2 linked regions of the Homo sapiens genome follow. The protein of the gene in region 1 interacts with the protein of each later gene in a pairwise test. Each region holds a gene or a part of one and is shown on either strand. Other genes may lie near its edges.

Evidence for each region. Proteins that work in one complex are often made in the same cells at the same time.
Region 2: the proteins of PACSIN1 (region 1) and FRYL interact in a two-hybrid assay, tested with the Homo sapiens proteins (one large-scale study listed by IntAct).

Annotation. Positions count from the first base shown.
Region 1 is NC_000006.12:34,525,076-34,528,575, reverse strand, and holds part of PACSIN1 (protein kinase C and casein kinase substrate in neurons protein 1), read right to left. Parts: intron 2,334-3,500; 5' UTR 2,271-2,333; coding exon 2,208-2,270; intron 1,245-2,207; coding exon 1,088-1,244; intron 1-1,087. UniProt on the Homo sapiens protein: Plays a role in the reorganization of the microtubule cytoskeleton via its interaction with MAPT; this decreases microtubule stability and inhibits MAPT-induced microtubule polymerization.
Region 2 is NC_000004.12:48,770,177-48,773,908, forward strand, and holds part of FRYL (protein furry homolog-like), read right to left. Parts: intron 1-3,732. UniProt on the Homo sapiens protein: Plays a key role in maintaining the integrity of polarized cell extensions during morphogenesis, regulates the actin cytoskeleton and plays a key role in patterning sensory neuron dendritic fields by promoting avoidance between homologous dendrites as well as by limiting dendritic branching.

The DNA of each region.
Region 1 (3,500 bases):
CCTTCTCTGAGGCTTTCCCTTTCCTCTCATAGCAACAGAAATGCCCTCCTCTGCTCTACGTGGCCCCATCCTCTAGGGCCCACATCAGCCACCACCTCCAGGAAGCCTTCCCTGACTGCTCTGCCCTCCTGCCATGGCCAGCAGCCCTCGCTGCATTCTTCTCACAGTATCTGCGGCCATACCTCCCTCCTCCTTATCTCTCTTGTCAGCATGTGAGCCCCATGGAATGGGGTCGGAGGGGGGCAGCCTGGACCCTGTGAGCTCTGACAAGCCCAGCACAGCGCCAAGCACACAGTAGGTGCTCCAGGAATGTTAGCTGAAGCTTGTGACAGATGCCAAGAGGCCACTGGGGACCAGTCATTCCACACTGACTTGTTGTTTGTGTACTGGCACCAGCTCTGTGCAGGGCACTGTGTTAGGTGGTGCAGGCCCAGCCCCTGCTCTCATGGGGTTTAGAGTATACTGCAAGAGAATAACATGAACAAGTATATGTAAACCGCAACTTCAAACTGTTCTAGATTAAAGGAACCTGAAGACACAATGCATAGAGGCAATGTGCGACTGCACTAGATCCTGGACTAGCAAGCGCAATTGCCATGGTAAATGTGCGTATGGGTCGTATTACATGTCCCAAATTTGATAGCTGAACTCTGGTTACTTAAGCAAATGCTCTTGTTCTTAGGAGATACATGAAGAATTTAGGGGTAAACAGGGATAATGGCTCCAGCTTACTCTCAAATGGTTCAGAAAATATGCATATCAATAAACAGTCAGTGAGAAAACGTGGGGCCAGTGAGCCTGGGGGAAGGGTATGTAGGAATTCTCTGTGCTACTGTTGCAACTTTCACAAAGTTTGAATTATTTCAAGATAAAAAGTGTTTTTTTTTTTTTAATTCAACCTAAAATTGTACAAAATAGAGATGAACAGGTAGGCCTGGTTTGATCTAGGAGGGAACAGCGCCTGAAAATGTCCTGTGTCTGGTAGATGGAGGGCATGGTGCATGCAAGTAGCCGGGGCTCCTAGGACCCAGACCTAGGGGGCTCGTGACGGCCTGGGGGCGCGCACGATGTGAGCCTGGGGGAGCACCTTTCTCGATGAGCTGGCGCCAACGCTTGGCCCAGTCGGTGAGCTGCTGCCCGTACGCCTTCTCGATCTTGGCGCGCTCCTGCACGCAGTTCATCAGGTCGTTGCATAGACGGTGGCCGTCATCGATGCGCTTCACGGTCCGCTTGTAGTTCCCCACCTGGCGGCCAAGCAGCGAGCACCACTCCCGCGGGTTCCCAGCGTCCCCAGCCCCGCCCGCCGCATCCAGCACGGCCACGCCCACTGTCTTCCGCCCCGCCTCCCCGCTTACGGCCTCGCCGTCCCCGCCCCCGCCCCCGCCCCCCGCCCCGCGGCGCAGCGGCAACACCCCAGGGAAACTAACTTTCGGAGGCTCCAGCACCCTGCCTCAGGCCCCGCCGTCTACACGCACCCTCACCCCAATTTAAACATGATTTCCTTGCTGCCACAAAATGCAGAAGGATTTTTAGAATTTGGACTTGGGCTGGAATGAATTATTCATTTTGTTTTTGCGAGTTAAATCTATTATATTTATATAGAGTCATATAAGCGTTGAGTTGAGCTGCAGCTTCTTGACATAATATTATGTTTTGTCGACATCTCATTAAACGCTTATTAATTTAGGTTTGGCAGTTTTCGTCTTGGGTTTCCGGAGCCAATAGCAATTTTTTTTCTCCAGGTCTCAAATATTTCCGAAGGTTCTGAAAATGCTGGCTTCTGGCTGTGCCTCCCGCTCTGCGGCCCCGTGGGGCTCTGGGAGCTCACTCCCTCTCTCTGTGTCCGGCGCTCCACCCCTGCCCACCTCAGGATGGGGGGCGAGCGAGGGAAATAGGAACAGCTGAGAAAGGCTGTGCTGTACCTGCCTGATGGAAGTGCCACAGAGTCACAAAGGGCCTGTTCCCACATTGTGAAATGCCACAGGCTCTCTCTGGGGGCAGCTGTGGGGAGAGAGGAGCTCCTGGCTCAGTGGGCAGTGCTCTTAGCCACTTCATGGCTACCGCTGCCTGTTGGACACCCAGGGCTTTGGAGGGGCCTGGGGGACTGCGGAGTGGGGCCTGAGGTCATGGGGTGAGTGATAAGGGAGCCTGGCCTCCAAACAGCCAGGCTGTCTGGTCCCCGAACCTGGGGATCATGAGAGCCTCACCTCCCAGAAGCTGTCGGTGGTCTCCTCTGGCGCCAGTGAGGCCTCATCGTAGGAGCTGGACATGGTGTAGCCGCAGGGGGATGGACAAGTGCGGAGCTGCGGTTAGCAGGCTCGGCTGCTCATGCACTGGGAGGGCAGGAGAGAGATCCCTGGAGATGAGGGAAGGGCCTTCCACCCTTTGCCCCATTCCAGGCCTGGGTCCCCAAACCGATGGGACCCAGGGAGGCTTGCATTAGGATGCCATCTTCCTGTCCAGAGACTAACTCACCAGACTTAGGTAACCCCAAGAGTCGCCCTGTAGCACCCTCATGCCCAACTCCCCATCCCTCCTCCTTCCCCCTCCCTGGAATCCATCCTCTATCCAGTATGAGCACCTCCGTTCAGAAGCCAGCCCCAGCCCCCAGAGCTGGCTCTCTCTCCTGGACTGTTGGAGCCCAGGCTCAGCGCCTCCTCAGTTATCTGAGCCCCGGGACCCTGTAAATGCCCTTCTGTCTGCCCTTGCTCCCAACCTCAGCAGCCCCCATTAGCTTCTTACAAGTCTCCTGAGAGTCCCAAATGTGTGGTGTCCTGGCCCACAGGTCACACCACCGAGATCTATGGGAGCGTCTGGGGTGGCTGTGTCTGCCCTGGATCTGTCGGCAGGCATCAGGGTTATCCAATCTAGGCCGTGCGCTGCCCCAGGGCCGAGGTGGGTACTCCCCTCCTCCCTTCCCCCAGCCAGGCCTCACTGTTACCCCAGGCAAGAATGGCTCAGTAGTCAGGAGCCAGGACTCAGAGGGCCAAGGGCCTGGTTTTCAAAGAGGCAGCAGAGTCCAGGCTGCGCCTGGCCCTGATACAAGCTGCCAGCCTCTAGCTGGATCCCGGCACCAGGGGACACCTCCCTGCTTCTGCACTGCAGTCCCAGGACTGTGAACCCTGACAGTGTGGATGCTCAGGGAAGGCTGGCCTCTGTAAGATTCAGCCCAACCTGGGGGTCCAGCAGTTGGCTCTCAGGCTCAGGGCAGGGGCAATAACACGTAAGAATGGTTGGTGGAGGATGTCCCTCCCCCTAGGGCTCCCCATCTGTCCAGGGCCTGGGGCTCTTTCCCAGTAATAACCCAGTATTGCCTCTTGCACCCCTCAGGCATCTAAACATATTTTGTTCCCTCCCTTTTAGAAGAACCACAGACAGACTTTCCCATAAACTCACGCACAGTGCGGGTGGGTGAGAGGGAGGACGGCTGGATTTCATCAAGGGACAAAGAAATGAGTCTGAATTTTTCTTTTCTTAACTTGGCACTTTTCACTTATAAA
Region 2 (3,732 bases), on another chromosome or scaffold:
AAGATGTTACAACTGGGAGAAGCTGAATGAAGGTGACACAGGACTCCCTGTACTATTCTCGCAACTTCCCATGAGTCTATAAATACTTCAAAATTTAAAAAAAAATGTTTAAGTGATGATATTCAATCACATTTTTCTTATTTTACAAATTACTAATATTTTAAGTAGGATCAAAAACATGGAACTAATATATTTTAAATTATTTGAAAATGTTTTTCATCCTTATCACATTTTTTTGTTAATGTCTTTTTTATTTTTTATTTATTTTTTATTTTTTTGAGACAGAGTTTCGCTCTTGTTGCCCAGTTTGGAGTGCAATGGTGCAATCTCGGCTCACCGCAACCTCCGCCTCCCGGATTCAAGTGATTCTCCTGCCTCAGCCTCCTGTGTAGCTGGGATTACAGGCATGCACTACCACGCCTGGCTAATTTTGTATTTTTAGTAGAGATGGGGTTTCTCCATGTTGGTTGAGCTGGTCTCGAACTCGCAACCTCAGGTGATCTGCCCGCCTCAGCCTCCCAAAGTGCTGGAATTACAGGTGTGAGCCACCACGCCCGGGTTAATGTCTTATTATGAACATAATTTATAGTATATAGTTTACAATAAATAAGCATACACATATTGGGAATGAAGACTCAATTTTTTATACTGCTGAAATAAAATTTTTGCAGACTTCTGTTACAGAGGCTACAAAATTCCAAGCTACTATCCCTCCCTTAAAATTTTTACCTTGGGAAGAACATTAGAACAGGAAAAATGTTAGAACAGGAAAAATACTAAACTAAGAATCAAAGCACAGTTCTTTTTTTGTTTGTTTTTTGTTATTTCCTTTCAAATCTACATCTGCAGAAAAAGAACAATTCTAAACAAGTCACAGTCTCATTCTCATCTATAAAATGCAGAAATTCTACTGTATCATTCCTAAGGACATTCTAGCTCCAAAAACATTAACTCTAAGGCAGGAAAAGGTGAAACAATGAAAAAATGCATGACAAACTGTAACTAGTATTTACTGAAAGTATATTAAGGGTTCAGTAGTATCAGGAATATTACATACAAGACATGGTCTAAATTGTATCAACACAAATACAGAAAAATGCATCTATAAAGATAATTTTACCTCAAAGAAAACAGATTAAGATCCAGTTTAAACAAAAATATTTAGGTAACAGACACATCTGGCTATTTTACAAGCAATCTCATAGTGCTTTAAGACTTTTAATATCTGCTCTTTGACTTACATTGTAACAATATACCAGTAGATCTAAGTATCCTAGTATACATGCTTAGGGTTTTGATGGTTCTTACAAGAAGTAGACTAGCAAGTCATTCTAACAGGAAAAACAGTTCTTCTCCATCCACTTGAGTTAGACTTAACAAGACAATTTTTAGAGGTTTATTATTCAGAGGAAGTTAAACATCCACAGGGTAGCATCTACCATCCTGTTATACCATCCTCGGCTATCCAGAAGCATCACTTAGCCAAAACAGAGTCAAAAACCAGAAAAAAAGCACGAGTCCTCTAAGCAGTAAAAAACAACAAGTCCCTAGCACTAAAGCTCCATGCACAGAAAGTCTTCTGGTTCCTCACCCAGAAGAACATGCTGTCATTTTTATCCACCATTCAGCAAGTACTGTATGGGGTTCTGTTCCCACAGCACACTGAAAACATCAAATTATAAAGAGGAGACTACTATGGGCAGGCATAATGAGAGCAAACAAAGAGATAACAGTTAACAATAAAGTAATAAGCAAATCAACCCCCAAAAGCAGACATGATTTAGAAAGGAATGGTTTCACCAACAAACAAAATATGATTCTCTGTACATTGCTGGCTGAGGACACTAATTGGCTAGAGTTCCTTTTGCAAATAAATTGTTGTGAGTTCACTGACATCCCAGACATACGAATGTCACTAAATCTATTGACTACTTAATAAGTAAGGTATAAGTATTAATAATGTATATGTACCATCTTTTAAGGTGGAAGGATGCAGATTATATTTTGAGAATTTTTTGTAATTGTTTCCATTAACTATACTTTACACTTCTACAGGCTAGCAAGTCTTTGTCTTTTTAAGATTATTTTGAACCTCTATTTTTGATAGTAATTCACTTGATAGTCACATGAGACCTGCCGGTAAAGGCCACAGTGAGCCGTGATTGCACCACTGCACTCCAGCCTGGGCAACAGAGCAAGACTCTGTGTCAAAAAAATAAATAAATACCTTTCTAAACTTGGATCTACATACATCAAGGGATGATGTACTTGAATCTACTCATACTATTTATACACATTGAGAGGGATCAAGTTACACAGGAATGTACATTTATTAAGATGCACATTCATCAAACTAATATTTTTAACCAGTATTATAGATGGCATAACCCATCTTAAGTTTTAAAATGGAAAAATAAAATTACAAATTATCTTTCCAGCATTCTTTACTATTGAACTAAATTAAATCACATCTGAAGCTTACCCTGAAATGAAGAGACCTACCAAAAAAAAAAAAAAAAAAAAAAAAAGCAGAACAAAACAAGAATTCTGAGAAGTGGAAATACTACACTGAAATCCATTCAGGCAACAAAGAACACGTGAGTGGTTTATATCCTAAAAAGCAAGGCTGCACTGCAGTAAGTAAACAAACTAATGTTCCTTTTTCATCAACTTTCAGATGCTTTTAACAACAACAACACTTTTAACCTTTCTGAAGTATGGACGCTGAAATAGAGGTGTATCTTACAACTACTGTCATCCAACAGTGGGATGTCGTTGGTGAAAACGTTCAGTTGATTCCTCCTGGAAAGATCAAGGAAGCACCAGCATCAAAGTGTCTTACATTTGATCAAAAATAGTCACTCAAAATAGTCTTAAAAAGACAAAGAAATGATCAGAAGCCTGTAAAAGTATAATCAACAGAGACAACTACAAAAAATTCTCAAAATGTAAACTGCATCCTCCTACCTTAAAATATGGTACATATAAATTACTTATCACACTACTTAGCAAGTAGTCAACAGATTATCTATCATTATTATTATAAGACGCAAGATAAAGACTAGTAGAGCTGATGAAAATATCTGTGATCATAGTGATCAGCCAATCAATAAGCACTTATTAAGGGTCTACCAAGTCACTAGCAATATGCAAGAGTAATGCAAATCCATCATGATCAATCTACGAAGCACTATTTTTTTAACCAGTAAGGGGCAAATGTCACATCACATTCATCAACGATTAGAACTAAGTACTTTTAACTTCCTTTAAAGTATTGCCCTTTATTTGAGTCCAGTCTGCAGAACTCGAAACCTAAATTGTTTACTTGAAAAGAGTCATCAAATGATTATGTTAGTATAAGGAAGTGTTACCAGAATGAGTCTAATGGTTTTCATAGGGGAAAAAAAAAATTTCCTATTATTCTCCAGGCTTAGGTAGAATAATGATGGGTTAAATTTTCTCTTAAAACCTTTCTACGGTGGCTCACACCTGTAATCCCAGCACTTTGGGAGGCCAAGGCAGGCAGATAGCTTCAGCCTAGGAGTTCAAGATCAGCCTAGGCAACATGGCAAGATCCTCTTTCTACAAAAAATAGCTGGGTGTGGTGGCACATGCCTGTGGTTCCAGCTACTCACGGGGCTGAGGTGAGAGGATCACTTGAGCCCAGCTGGTGGAGGCTACAGTGGAAACTGTAGCTGTGACTGCACCACTGCACTCCAGCCTGGGAAACAG